Linked DNA regions of Homo sapiens. The protein of the gene in region 3 interacts with the protein of the main gene of each other region in a pairwise test. Each region holds a gene or a part of one and is shown on either strand. Other genes may lie near its edges.

Region 1 (3,972 bases), on a different chromosome or scaffold from region 3:
GCGGGAGATGAAGAGGCAACTGGAGAGAGCTCAGGGAGAAGGTAGCAGGAAGAGCGGGGGTAGGGGGAGGAAAGTGGAGGTGTGACAGGGCCCCTGAGGTGGCCCTGGCTGCAGGCCACCTCCACCACAATCCCTGGCGTGGGCAGGGTGAGGTGCAGGCCCTGCCAGGGCTGGGCCCTCTGGCTGGAGCTCAGGGAAACAGGTGGGTTTTGTAATTTGGGATCTGAGTCAGGTGCCTCCTCCCTGGAGTGGAGTGAGGGGCTGGGGACATTGGGCTTCTCCGTGGGTGTCACCTTGAGTTTGAATCTGGTGGCCACCTGGGCACTAGACATGGAGGGGGAGCCTCCTCTGTCCTTGCGTTTTCTCTGAAGCATCTTGGGGCTGGAGACTGTGGGGCGGGGGGAAGCATAGGGCTGCCCGCCATTGGTGGGTTTAGCTGGCTCAGAGCCCAGAGGCGGCAGATCTGAGGTGGGCTCCAAGCTGGTGGGGAACAGAGGACGGCCGTCGCGGCAGTGGGCGCCACGGAGCTTATCCACAGCCTGGCTGACCACGCTTTGCAGGGCAGGGAAGAGGCGGTGGTCAGCCAGGAAGTTCAGCGTGCGATGGGGCTCACGGAGCGGACAGTAGCCAGGCAGGTCGAGGGACTCCAGCTGGCTCAGTAATGACTTGATCTCCTTATTGAACTCTCGCTTGCGGAAGATTGGCTCCTGTTCTCCAGGCCTCGGCTCTGATGCTTCAGGCACGCCAGAGCTTGAGCCCAGCAGCCCTGAGAACCAGGACAAGGGCTGCTCCTGTGTCCACTGAAAGCTGGTCTGGCTACCCAGCGAATCCCACAGCAGGGAGTCCCTCTGGGAGCAGGACTGACTGAGGCCTTTCTGCAGAAAGAGGGTGACTCTGTGAAGTGTTCAGGAGCAGCCAAGCCAGGGCTGACCCTAGCCCTGGGCTCTCCATGGGAGTCCACCCCACCCAGCCATGGCCCTGGCTCTCACCCCTTCCCTCTCCAGCTGTAGCAGCCGCTTGAGGTTCTTCTCCAGCAGGAGTTTGTCCCTCACAGGTGGCAATGAGCCTTGGGCACCTAGGTCACTGTCCCGGCTGTGGGAGCCCAGACAGCCGGCCATGAGGCTGCTATGGCAGTTGGACATGGAGCTGGAGCTGGATGGGTAGTTGTTGGGGTGTCCAGTGCAGAGGGTCGGCCGTACACGGTGCCGGTGTACGGTGCTGAGGCTGGGCCGGGCATGTGCCCGCCGTCCACCACTTGGCACCTCCACTGGGTCCTGCACCTCCACAAGCGGCACCCCAGCCTCCGTCTTCATGGCAGCCATGCGCTCAGTCGCCTTCTCCACCACTGTCTCCAGGCTGTCCAGGACCTGGCTCTCAGTTAGGAAATCCAGAAAGTGGCCAAAGGGCTGAGGGTGCCTCTTGTTTCGGCGTTGGCCCTGGAGTGCTGAGCTGCCACATGTGGATGGTGGGTGTGGCACACGGCCCGGCTTGCAGGCTGGCCGCATTTCTGGGACCAGTGGCTTCTTGGGCAGCTGCACCTGAGCAGACAGGTATGTCACAGGGGGCAGGGGTGCCCTACAGGTGAAGGGTTCCCTGGGGTAACACTAGGACCTGGGTGGGAGTGAGTAGTGGAAGGAGCTGCATTTTGGAGTCTGGAAGCCCTGGGTTTGGACCCTGGCTCTGCCACCTACAGCCTGATGCCAGTGTGCAAGATGGCCCCTCTTGAGGTCCAATGTCCTCATCTGCAAAGTGGAGGTCTATTCAGGGTCACCCCGAAGCTTTCCTAACACCTACATTTCACACACACAAGTCCTGGCTAAGGAGTCTGCAAGCCTGCTTCTGCCCTGACACGTGGCAGGATGAGCAATCATGAATCTCTCGGAGTCTCCCTCCAGCTCCTCATCTGTCCATGCAGCAGGCCATCCCTGTATCCATGGCAGGGCTGCAAACAACATCTGAGGTCTTGAGTGCAGACAACACCTGAGGTCTTGAGCCCTGTGCTACCCGGGCCTGTTTCTCCAACTTGAGCCATAGGCACCTAGTCAACTCCATGCTCCCACTCTAGGGTCCCAGTCCACCCAAGCACCTTCTGGGTCGCTGGAAGTCAGGAGGAAACAAGGAATGAAATTGAGTGTGACAGGGGCAAGCAGTGGGGGACATAGGAGAAGTCAAGGCAATAAGGACTTCACTAAGAGGCCCAGAGAAGTCAATAGACAATGAGAAATGGGGGTTGTGGTCTTGGGTGCCAGGGTTGGTGGGGAACATGTTGTGGCCTCAAGGGTCGGCGCCCTGCTGGGCACACTTACCCGTGCACTGCACATGGAGTGGCTGGCCTCGTCATCGGCCAGGTAACCCGAGTGGTGGCGGCACCTGGCCATGTGGTCACCTGGCAGGTGACCGGGCCTGCTGCCCACCTCTCTCTTCAGCTGCGCATTCCTCTCTGCGTGGGGTGGGGAGACAACCTGAGGGTCTCCAATAGGTCCACGCATCTGTGGCCCTGGAGTCTGCGGGTCCCTCGCTCCCCGCACCCCGCCTCCTTCATGCATCCAGCCCTTCCTCTGCTCCATGGCCCCCATGCGTCTGCAGGCAGGCAGTTTCCAGAGTCATCGGGGTGGAATCGCTGAGGACAATCCTGTCTCCGATCATCTTTGGATCTGCGTGTGCTCGACCCGCCCTCCTCCCAAACCCTGGGCAACCTGGCTTTCACCCCAGCCCAGAATCAACAGACTCACCAGAAACACCGCCTTGCTCCGCACAGGCCAGTACAGTCTGCGCCCTCACTGGAGCAGCTGCACAGTGCGAGGAAGTCGGCTGGCGGCCTCCACTTGCTTATTTGCATACCACATCCTCATTGGTTCTTACCGAGGAGCTCGTCCACTTCCCTCTCCGACACAATGGTTGGGGGCGGGGCCCACATTGGCCCCACCTCCAATTCTCTGGGCTCTGCCCTCCCACACTCGCCTGGGAGCCGCAGGCTGAGGATGCTGGTGCCCACGCTCCCCGCTGCCGGGAGGACCCCCCACCCACCACCGAAGCTGGGGCTAGGCTCTTTGATCTGCTCCTGCCCCGAGGGGAGCCTAAAAGCCAAAGCCACGTCTTCCACCGGTGGCACAAGCACCTTCCTCGTGTCCTCCTTGGTTGCTGCGCAGCCCTGGGCCTCCTGCTCCTGTTCGTTTCCAGGGGCCTCTGCCCTTCCCGCGGTGTGCACAGCCCCAGGTTCTGCCTTGAGACCTCTCCCCTCTGCAGTGGAAAGAGTGCCGGCTCTAAGTCACAGACCTAGCTTCAGTTCCTGGCTCTGCTCTTTCCTGCCAATGTGACTCAACCTCTCAGCATTAGTCCCACACTGTAAATGGGCTTGAGTGTTCTTCCAATATGGGAGTATGGGATTCAATAAAATCTCCCTACAGCACACCCAGTAACCCAGTGGAGCCTTGTGTATTCTTTAATTAATTAATTTATTTATTTGGAGACGGGAGTCTCGCTCAGTCGCCCAGGCTGGAGTGCAGTGGCGCAATCTCGGCTGACTGCAAGCTCCGCCTCCCGTGTTCACGCCATTCTCCTGCCTCAGCCTCCCGAGCAGCTGGGATTACAGGGGCCCGCCACCACGCCCGGCTAATTTTTTTGTAGTTTTAGTAGAGATGGGGTTTCACCGTGTTAGCTAGGATGGTCTCGATTCCCTGATCTTGTGATCCGCCTGCCTTGGCCTCCCAAAGTGCTGGGATTACAGACCTGAGCCACCGCGCCCAGCGGAGCCTTGTATATTCTTACCTCCTCTCCCTCCCTCCTTTTCCCCTTTGCTCAGTAATACCCCACCATGGTGTCACTTCTTCCAAAAACCTTTTACTGTGAATTCTGCCACGCCCTACGCAATTCACAGTAAACCCCATTCCAGACTCTACCATACCATGTTGCTACTTATTTTTCTATCAGATGGTGCTTCTTTGGGGCCAGAACAGAGGCAAGTCACCCTTA
Region 2 (3,500 bases), on a different chromosome or scaffold from region 3:
GAACATATATCAATTCAGTATGTAGGCACTCAATCTTCACTTGTTATAAAGGGGTTTTGTTACAGAGGGCTTTTAAACCCTCTCTACAAAAGCAGTTTCAGTTGGTGTATTTTCAGGTGAATACATCTTGTCTTACAAACACACTTTGGAACTACATACTTTTAAGATAATCTAGTGTGAATTTATAACATTTGAATATAACATGTATTGAATATAATTTCATACTCCCAAGTTCGTTTCACAAAACTTAAAAAAAAGTATTAGAATTCATTTGCTTATTTACATCTTCCCTCACTGACAAAAGGAATAAAAAGGACCAGACTACGGTTAATCATAAGTCATTAACGTACACTTGTGAGTCAAGCGCAAAATTTCAAGCATCTTGTGTTGATAAATCTGTATTTCTTTTTTATTGTTATTATTGTTTTTGAGATGGAGTTTCGCTCTTGTTGCCCAGGCTGGAGTGCAATGGCATGATCTCGGCTCACTGCAACCTCTGCCTCCCAGGTTCAAGTGATTGTCCTGCCTCAGCCTCCCAAACAGCTTGGATTACAGGCATGCATCACCATGCCCAGCTAATTTTGTATTTTTAGTAGAGATGCGGTTTCACCATGTTGGTCAGGCTGGTCTCGAACTCCTGACCTCAGATGACCCACCTGCCTTGGCCTCCCAAAGTGCTGGGATTACAGGTGTGAGCCACCGTGTCCAGCCTAATAAATCTATACTTTTATAAGACCATGCATTACTGAGCTAATACAATTTTTGTTCTTTTTAGAAGAGATGTTATCTCTAGATCAGTTTACTGACTCCTTAAACAGGCTCTTCTTTGTTTCCTTATCTGGTTAGTCAATATTGAGAAAGAGGAAAATGTATTTCTAAAATATGGCTAATAGGCTGGGTGCGGTGGCTTACGCCTGTAATCTCAGCACTTTGGGAGGCCAAGGCAGCCGGATCACTTGAGGTCAGAAGTTTGAGACCAGCTTGGCCAACATGGTGAACCCCCTCATCTCTACTAAAAATACAAAAATAAGCCAGGTGTGCTGGCACACACCTGTAATCCCAGCTACTCAGGAGGCTGAGGCAGGAGAATCTCTCTTGAACCCTGGAGGTGGAGGTTACAGTGAACCAAGATCACGCCACTGCACTCCAGCCTGGGTGACAGAGCAAGACTCCATCTCAAAATAAATAAATAAATAAATAAAATACGGTTAATACATCCAATTATGTATGAAAACCATCATTTTATAATTTAGTTTTCATATTTAAAGGAAAATATGCAGATTAAAAAGTGACCTGCTCAAAGTACTAAAATAAAAATAAGTACATTTAAATATAAATATTTACTATTCTGGAGAATAAATACCATCAATTACCTGATGTTCCTGTGTTTGTACTCTGGAAAAGTGAACCTCCCAAACCAGCTAAGGCTCCCCCTAAAGAGAGGCCTGTTGATGCAGTTGTAGTTGTGGCTGTTGTCCCACCCAAATTATTTAGAGTAAATCCTGTGGATGCTATAAAAAGAGAGATAGTAAGCTTTCAAAAGGCAACTTATTTAACAGCACCATAGAAAAATACAAATACGATGTTTTTAAAAACTGACATCCATGATAAAATTGGCTCTTTGGAAGAACTACTTGCTAAAAATTACATACTTAAGAATAAAGAGAAATAGCAGCTTCAAAGCAAAAATCTGCGACAGAAATAAGGGCTTTGAGGAGTATTAGAATGGTACCAGGTAACTGATTCTAGATAGCAATATTGTCTTCAACCCAGGCCACCAACTTCACCTTCATATTAAATGAATCATAAGCCAGGCAAGGTTTATGCCAAGTCTTTGTCTTCCCCTGTCACTAAATGCCTCCTTCAAAACAAAGTCAATATTAACAGCTTTACATTTTACCTCTCTAGCCCTCTCCCCTGCTTTGCTCTCTAAATAGGGACATCAAGACAGCCTCTCCTGCTTCAATGCTCAAAGCTGAATTTTCTTCTTTATAAATCAATAATTTCTGTAGTAAGGTGACTATCTATGTTCTCTAACCAGATAAAATTGAAATTTAACCATTAAATGCAACGGTTTTTCATTCTGCCTCACCTGCTGGAGTTGATGTCAGAGCAGACGAAAGAGTCAGACCGCTAGCTGAGGTAGAGGTAATAGGTAGAGCAAATGGTGTGGCAGATGCTGCAGGTTTATTGAATCCTAAACTGAAGCCTGTTGTAGCTGCAGATGTAGTGGCTGGCGTTCCTATTTAAATAAATAAATGAATAAACAAACAAACAAAAATCCTACTTTACCTGTAAGTGTTCTATTATACTGGTTTCAATAAGGATCCTTAAAAGTTCATGATACTACCTTTTGCCAATAGAAGAAGGGTGTATCTGTGAGAGAAAATATGTAAAAGTTGAGACTAAACCATGGTGAACACAAAAAAGATGGCTCTTTAAGAAAAACAAAAGAATGGCCAGGTACAGTGGCTCACGCCTGTGATCCCAAAACTTTGGGAGGCCAAGATGGGCAGATTGCTTGAGGTCAGGAGTTCAAGACCAGCCTGGCCAACACGGTGAAACCCTGCCTCTAGCTAAAATACAAAAATTAGCTCAATGTGGTGGTGCACACTTGTAACCCCAGCTACTCGGGAGGCTGAGGTACGAGAGTCACTTGAACCTGGGAGGGGGAGGTTGCAGTGAGCTGAAATCGTGCCACTGCACTCCAGCCTGGGAGACAAGAGTGAGACTCTGTCTCAAAAAATAAAAAAACAGAAAAGAAAATCCAATCGATGTAACATATCAATTTTTATTCTACTCCTAGATTTACCTCTAATGCAGCATTTATCCTCCTCCTTTCCCTCTCAGCAGAAAAATGGTCCCTCCTCTCTAATACTCTATCAATAACCATTCTCTATTCCTTTCTTCTGGCCCTTGTGTCTCTGTCAGCCCCCAGCTGTCTCCCTATTCCTTTTCAGTCCTTTTTTTCTGTAGCTCTCTTTCCTCTGTTCATGTCTTAACTGACACTTCCTAGAGTTCCATTCCTACCTCCTTACTTCCCCAATGACACACCCACTTTCATCATTTCTCCTACAGGTGATTAAGTCTAAACTGACATTTACCTAAGTCCTCATTGTCTAGTTCTATCTTGATGTCCCTTTGGCCTCCTACATATCTCACCACAAACATTTTTTGCTATATCTCCAACCTTGCTCAGTTCAATTGCTTAAGCCAGAAACCAGTCATCCTTGACATCCTTTCCTTCTCCTGTACTCCATTAGTTACAAATCCTGTCGATCCTACTTCAGAAATATCCTGTACTACAAGCATCCTTAAAAACCTTAGCTTAGGCCATATCTCTCTTAAGAACTACTACAACAGCATTTATTTCTCTGGTATCAGTCTCTTCTAACCTCTAATCTATTCTTAAAATTATCTTGGTTACCTTAAAAAAAAAAAAAAAAAAAAAGACAGGTGCCGTGGCTCACGTCTGTAATCCCAGCACTTTGGGAAGCCAA
Region 3 (3,500 bases):
CTCCACAGCAAGTCCAAGGACTTCTTTACCCAGCTGTTAACTAGGAATGGTGAGGAGAGCAGAGGGCCAGGAAAACATGTCTTACCTGCCTGGGCTAACGCAAAGAAAAGCGGCAAAGGTTCCGTGCTGGTCGGCAGTGTGGGGAGAGGAGAGTCTGTTTCCAGTGGAATCCTGTGGGCAGCCTGAGGAAGAGAACAGGATCGATGCCATGTGCCGAAGGTGGCTGAGGCTCATATGAGACACCCTTAGAAGACAGGTTATGGGAAGGCTAGGGCGGCTTTCATTTGCTTATTTAACATGTATTTTAGTATCCTGAGCTAGGTGCTAAGGATACAAAGGTGAGAGCTGGAGGCTGCTCTGTGTGTGCAGCCTAGTGTGACAGGCCTGTGATGGAGGTGTGTGGAGAGCAGCCGGGGGACGGGAAAGCATCAGGAGACAAGCGTCGCTGAAGGATGAGCAGGTGCCGACCAGGTGAAGCCATTTTCTCAGACCCGGCTGACAGTGGAATCACCTGGGGAGCTTTTAATAACCCGGAGCCCATTGAATATGATGGATCTGATCAAGAAAAAATCCAGAGCCCAGGACACACTCCTGAACAATTAAATGAGACTCTCTGAGATTGGAACCCAAGCATCATTACTGGAGATTTCAAAGTACAGCCAAGGAGGAGACCATGGGGGTTATCAGATAATTTGTGCCTTAGGTTTTCAGGGCAATGGAATGGTTAAATGGGTGACTCTTTTTGTTTTTGTTTTTTTTAATTGAGCCTTCTTATTCACCCTTTCTAGGAAACCAAGAGAGTTGCCTTCTGGACCTGGGTCTGGGGAGGAGCTAGAAGGAGGGAGGGGGGCAGGCAGGAAGGGGAAAGGACGGAAGAGGACTCTGGGGCTGTAGGGTCTAAGCTCTCAGTGTCATTGTCACAAACCACGCCTCCCTCACTGCCAGGACCTCCTGCAGAATTCCCCCAATTCCATGTCCGGAGTCTCCAATAACCCCCAGGGGATTGTGGTCCCAGCCTCAGCGCTCCAGCAGGGCAACATCGCCATGACAACCGTCAACTCACAAGTTGTGTCAGGTCGGTGCAAAGACTGGGAAGGGTGATTGTGGGAATTCCCTGGGAGGAGAAAGGGTGGCCCCGAGGCGGTTCCAGGGGTGGGGGTTGTCCTCCACCGAGGGAGGGGCTCCCAGCTCAGTTTCTTGACTAAAGTTTTCTGTAAGTTTATAGACGGTTAGCGCCAAGACCCAATTGTGATGGTTTAGAACAAATTTGGGTCAAAATCTCATGAGCCCCTGAGAGGACCAAGTAAGGCTGTTGTCCCTTCCCCGAAGCACCTCCCACCAGAGGCTCTGTCCTAGGCTCTAGACACCATCCCCCACCCACCCATAAAGCAGAAAGCCATAGCTCGCTACCCAAGGGCTCCAAGTAGAGGGTCTTTACACATGAGTGCCAAATGAACTGGGAACCCTGCTTGCCCTCGCTCCTACCCACTCCCATGGCAGGGGACCCCAAAACTGGTTGTCTCCTCAGGTGGAGCCTTATACCAACCGGTTACCATGGTAACCTCCCAGGGTCAGGTGGTCACCCAAGCAATCCCCCAGGGAGCCATCCAGATCCAGAACACACAGGTGAGTGTGTGTAGGTGTGTGCACATGTGCATGGTGTGGGCTAGGGCACCTGTAATCGCTTCTTATCTGCCAGGCACTTTACACGGGTGACTCATTGAATCCTCATCATCCTCTAAGAGGTATCATTACCCCTACTTTACAGATAAGAAGCTGGGTCTTGGAAAGGTTTTATCAACTCCTGGGATTTTGCTGCCTCCCTCCTGGGGTTACATCAAAGGATCCTGCACTTCCTATTCCTGTCTGCAGACTGAGCCGCTGTGTCCCTCAGTGGTAGAGAGTGCACACACAAAGGAAGAGTAGAAAGATCGGAAGTCAGAGTCTGGGATCTGACATTAACTCTGGGATCTCTGATAAGTCACCTAACCTCTCTGAGCCTCAGACTTCTTATTGATAAAAGGGGGATTAATAGCAACTGCACACAGCCTAGCCAACCTACAGGGCTGCTGTGAGAATGAACCACAGCGATGGATAGGAAAGTGCTTTGCAAACTGTAAAGTACCACAGAAATGCTGATAACTACTTGACAGCTTATGGCAAATTCATATCTTCTCCTGTTCTCTCTGCATGGCCCTGTTTCCTCTGTCTTTCTCTCTCTCTCTCTCTCTCTCTCTCTCTCTCTCTCTCTCTCTCTCTCCCCCCCTTCCCCATCTCTTCCTCCTTGTCCTTCTTCCCTTCTCCCATCACCCAAGCCTCACCTCCACTCTCTGAGGGGCTGGCATGGGCTGAGAGGGAAAGGTGACCTCCCCAGGGCCCTAGGAATGAGCCGGGAAAGGGGCTGGCAGCCAAGCCTGCCGTCGCTATGGCAACAGGTCCCCAGCCGCTGCCCTCACAGGCTGCTGATGCTGATTTTCTCTCCACGTGCCCTGAAGGTTAACCTTGACCTCACCTCCCTCCTGGACAATGAGGATAAGAAGTCCAAGAACAAACGAGGAGTCTTGCCCAAGCATGCCACCAATATAATGCGTTCTTGGCTCTTCCAGCATCTCATGGTGAGTGTGTGTGTCTTGGGGGTGTGGAGTCCCGGCATGGGGTATGAATAACCCACCGTGTGGGTACCAGACTCTGCTGTCGGCTCCAAACCCACAGACAGAGGGCGCGGCCTCGGGGAGAGCTCTCTGATAGGAATGACATCTGGAGTCCAGGCCAGGGGGGCTCAGGTGGGGCCTAAAGCTGGAGACCTTCTCCAGTACCTGCTGCTGTTGCTATCTGGAAAAAATGTGGCAACACATGGGGTAATGGGGACAAGTGCATGCTCAAGAGTCAAGTGCTGGGCAGGTGTGTCACACTGTTTCATGAACAGAGAGAGGGTCACTGCGGGGAGTGGGTGGTTTCTGGTCCAGAGCCCTCCCCCTGCCGCAGCCACGCTCACCGTGCCCCTCTCCCATGGAAGAATGTGTTGACTCTGCCAGGACTCCTGAGTCCTCCCCACTGGGTGAGCCAAGCGCTGTGTGGTGGAGATGGGCGCCAAGGCTGGAATCCTGGCTCCTCATGTCACAGCTCAGCTCCAGGACACAGCACTATTTCTTTCATAAGCTGCAGCAGCTCCTTTTATAAAATGGCACACTACCTCGGGTTGCAGTGGAGTGTTACTGAAGTGCATACTGTGTGAAGGTTGCTATGTGTTTGTGTGCAGCATTAGTTGCAAAAGACGAGCCTTTGGTGGAATGTCAGGAAAGACTTCAAAATTGCAATCTCCCAACACCACTTTCAAGGGCTGTGGCAGTAAATAAAGGCCAGTGACTGTGCTGAGTGTGTATGCGCTGGTGTGTGTGTGTTCTGGGGTGGGGAGGTAGATGCTGTGACCACGGGCGGGCTTCCATTAGTCTGCGAGCTCCTGCCCTGGCATGTCAGGACAGACAGACACAGATACAAGA
Region 4 (3,500 bases), on a different chromosome or scaffold from region 3:
AAAGATTGAAGGTTCCAGGGTCTTGAGTAGCCAAGTAATCGTGCTTTAGAATCAAAGGGTTCTTTTCAGCAGACCACAGTTGACTCCTACCTTTAACACAACACTCAACATTCCAGGAGAGGTTTTTGCCTTCCCTTCAATCCTTCCAACACACAAGTTGAAGACTAAGAGGGAGGTAAGCCTTTTTTTTCCCCTACTTTCACCCAGGGGTGCCCTCTTAATCCAAGACTTGTGTGTGTGTGTGTGTGTGTGTGTGTGTGTCCCTTAACACAGGGGGCAATGACTCTTATCACTTTCAATTACATTATTTGTAAATTGTTTTTTTAAATATGTTATTCTAGAGACAACACAAAAAACCTTAATTTAGATTTTTTTAAGTCTCTAAACATTAAATGTATTGACACAAAATTTAAAATACAAAACTTTTAGAATGTTACTTTGACCAATACGACTGACTACTTTACTTCCTATCATTATACTTGAGCCAACATGAACAAGGAGCGAACTCTTTAACCCTCACCTGAACCGGATCTCTATTCACACCCACCCACTTTAATCTACTGCCTCAGTAGGTTTTAATTAGGAAACTAGAATTAAGCACTTTGGCCACAATGTACATTTAAGTGCCCTGACAGGCTTCCTTTCAATAAAAATCTGATAAAGTATCTTCAAAAATAGACTCTCTTTAGTCCATATTATCACATATGCTTTTATATTTTGATTCTACATTTCATGAAACAAGATCAGCAGGAACTCATACTTGGTTAGAAACAAATCTCAACAAACCAAACACTCAAAGTAAATAAGCATCAGAGATCAAAGAAGAAAAAAGAGAGAAGATAAAAAAATATATATAAATATATATATACACACACACTTAAGTTTCCTACTCTGGGCTAATAGAAAAAAGAAACTAAAAAGTGTGACAAACTGGAAAAAACTCTTTTGATATTTGAATGCACAGTCCATAAATCTTTTAAAAGTTGTCTCACAGCTAAAATAATGCAATTAACAGGTTTGCAATAAGGTTAAGCTTTGGCAAGGCAACCTGGAAGACTTAGAGGTCTGAACATCACTTCTCAGGTGCTTTGTCTAGAATGTTATGCACAACACAAATAACATTCAACAAAGGAGCTGCGTACTAATTTTACACGCATTTCAAGACCCAAGTAATTACATATTCATTCAACAGTCACATCTTGAAACTATTTTTTTAAAAGAAAAACACAGAGAGCTCTCAAAAAGAAAGCCACCCTGTGTGCCCTCTCCCCCCGCCCATTTTTTATGTGTAACTATCAATGTATATCAACCAAGCATGCAATCATATTTATTGTCACTTTCATTCATGTCATGCCCTTGCTTATATGGTTTAGATATGAATTATTGACTGTTACACTCCTTGTTGTAAAAAATAAATAAATAAATAGGATGTCAGGTACTTTGCACTGCTCTAAAGCGAGCGGGTAAGTCAGAGCCCAGCAGAAGCTCCCGCTTTATATAACCACCCCTTGTCCCTCATCTTTATTCCCTGGTTTCAGATTGCCTTCTCAAATCTTTCTTCTTACAAGGGAGAGCTTTACCCACTTTGGAAAATTAAGGATTAAAATAAACAAGGGGATGTCGCTAAATGTCCTTCCCAGAGCATCTGTTGTTTAAGAACACCTCTGATTGATGACTGCTATTTTTTAATTGTTGCTTTAAAATTTAAATGCCCTCCTGGGATGTGTTATAAGTGTGTTAGTCCACGAAACGAGGTCTAGAAAGTAGAAAAACAACAGAGTGAATTATCTCATGGCGTTATACTCTCCTAAACCCAACGATTCTCCCTGCAATAAAATCACAGGCCACTCAAATACCGATAACCTAATGTTGTATAGCGCATTCCACAAAGGTATTTGACAACACTCTCTGTTGAGAACCTCTAGTCTGCTGCTTTGTGTAATTACAAGAAAAAAAGGAAAGGAAACTTTCAACAGTTTAGCACCCCCACACCCAACTCCAAAAAAATTAGGGTTTTAAAAATGGGCCAAAATATATTCCTTAAAAAAATGAACTTTTACTTTCATATTTTTGCCCCAAAGATACATCAGTCTATAAATTTCCTTTCAGAATCTATATTTTAGCCCCAATCTCAAAAAGGCTGGAAATAGAGTTCTGGAAAATTAACCAGTAGTGCTTGATAATAACTGTCAAAGAAACTTGATTCTTTTTTTTAAGGAAAGCAGGGCTAGGACTTCCTATTCGAATATGAGGTCAACCTTCATAGTACTTGTATTCTGAAATTTTAATATTTAAATAATAGATTTGTGACTGCTGGTTAAGTGATTTAATTGGCCAAAGAAAATGCTAAAATGTTGGAATCTCATTCCTACCTGTTTTTTCTTTGATTTCACACAACACATTAAACAAGGCAGGCTTCATTCTGTGGCAGTTTAAAGCATGTTTTCTGCAAGAAAGAAACAACATGATAGCTTAGGTGGACTCTCAAGATCAAACTGCCGATAATGCACAGGGTGAAAACATTTGAACATTTAGACAAAATTATATACCCAACCCTAACTCTGTGGCATGCTTCAGTTGTTTTCATGACTTAATATACAGAGTCCCGCCATAGAAAAAGAAATAATGTTAATTAGCAGGGAGAGGGTAGGGATTTAACTACAGAACAGAACTAACCTAAATTATGCCCATTTAGGGAAAGGGTTTTTTTTTTTTTTTAAGTAGTTTAATCAAAGAGTAATTCTTAAACCCACAATTCTTCCCAGGACAATGAACACAGCAAAGCCAAAGGTGTAGGTTAACAGTTTTGTAAAATCCATGCAACGACCACAGCCTAGGAACTGTCTGCCTCTCGGTCTGTGTGTTTTCAAATTTAATTCATCCATGTGTTCGAATTCATTCCGCAGATGCCCCTGTATTCTCATAAACACAAGATGCTTGAAAGGTCTTCTGAGTAGAACTGTCAATTTATAACATTTCAGTCCCCAAGTTAAAGAGTATGGAAATGCATTGCCAGGGGGCAAACATACCCATATGGGGAATAAATTCATTTCTCTGTGTTCACATTATGCTTCTGTGCACACACTGCTTATTTGCAGGTGTTGAAATTCAATTATTTACAATTAGGACCTTGCACCCATTGGGGGAAAAATAAATGCAATTTTGTCTTTTAGATTAGTGATTTACCTGGTGTGTGTGTGTGTGTGTGTGTGTGTGTGTGTGTGTGTGTGTATTCTGAATGCACTTGAGGAACAAAACAATACCTTTCCTTCTATTTTATTATGGAACCACTTAGCAGAATGATACTGTTTTGGAAACAAAATACTGATCATATCAGCTATTAGTTAAGTGAATTCTGTCTACTAACTAAAATTAATGTGTAAAGATAAATGGAAAGTTCTGGCACTCAAAACACATGCAATTCTTTTTTAATCCCTTTGAAAGTTAAAAAATAGACACATCCTCATGAAGAACAGAGATCAGAAACATGCCCTATGTAC

The links. The genes of interacting proteins can lie anywhere in the genome.
Region 1: the proteins of PKNOX2 (region 3) and CCDC116 interact in binary tests that used the Homo sapiens proteins (3 or more experiments, as listed by UniProt).
Region 2: the proteins of PKNOX2 (region 3) and NUP58 interact in binary tests that used the Homo sapiens proteins (3 or more experiments, as listed by UniProt).
Region 4: the proteins of PKNOX2 (region 3) and PBX1 interact in binary tests that used the Homo sapiens proteins (3 or more experiments, as listed by UniProt).

The regions. Positions count from the first base shown.
Region 1 is NC_000022.11:21,631,588-21,635,559, reverse strand, and holds the start of CCDC116 (coiled-coil domain-containing protein 116), read right to left. Parts: upstream 2,801-3,972; 5' UTR 2,733-2,800; intron 2,581-2,732; exon of another isoform or gene 2,577-2,580; coding exon of another isoform or gene 2,379-2,576; coding exon 2,307-2,378; intron 1,539-2,306; coding exon 990-1,538; intron 876-989; coding exon 294-875; coding exon of another isoform or gene 1-293.
Region 2 is NC_000013.11:25,311,625-25,315,124, reverse strand, and holds part of NUP58 (nucleoporin p58/p45), read right to left. Parts: intron 2,243-3,500; coding exon 2,093-2,242; intron 1,512-2,092; coding exon 1,374-1,511; intron 1-1,373. UniProt on the Homo sapiens protein: Component of the nuclear pore complex, a complex required for the trafficking across the nuclear membrane.
Region 3 is NC_000011.10:125,409,251-125,412,750, forward strand, and holds part of PKNOX2 (homeobox protein PKNOX2), read left to right. Parts: intron 1-945; coding exon 946-1,075; intron 1,076-1,528; coding exon 1,529-1,626; intron 1,627-2,495; coding exon 2,496-2,615; intron 2,616-3,500.
Region 4 is NC_000001.11:164,562,184-164,565,683, reverse strand, and holds part of PBX1 (pre-B-cell leukemia transcription factor 1), read right to left. Parts: intron 2,447-3,500; coding exon 2,373-2,446; intron 1-2,372. UniProt on the Homo sapiens protein: Transcription factor which binds the DNA sequence 5'-TGATTGAT-3' as part of a heterodimer with HOX proteins such as HOXA1, HOXA5, HOXB7 and HOXB8. Binds to the DNA sequence 5'-TGATTGAC-3' in complex with a nuclear factor which is not a class I HOX protein.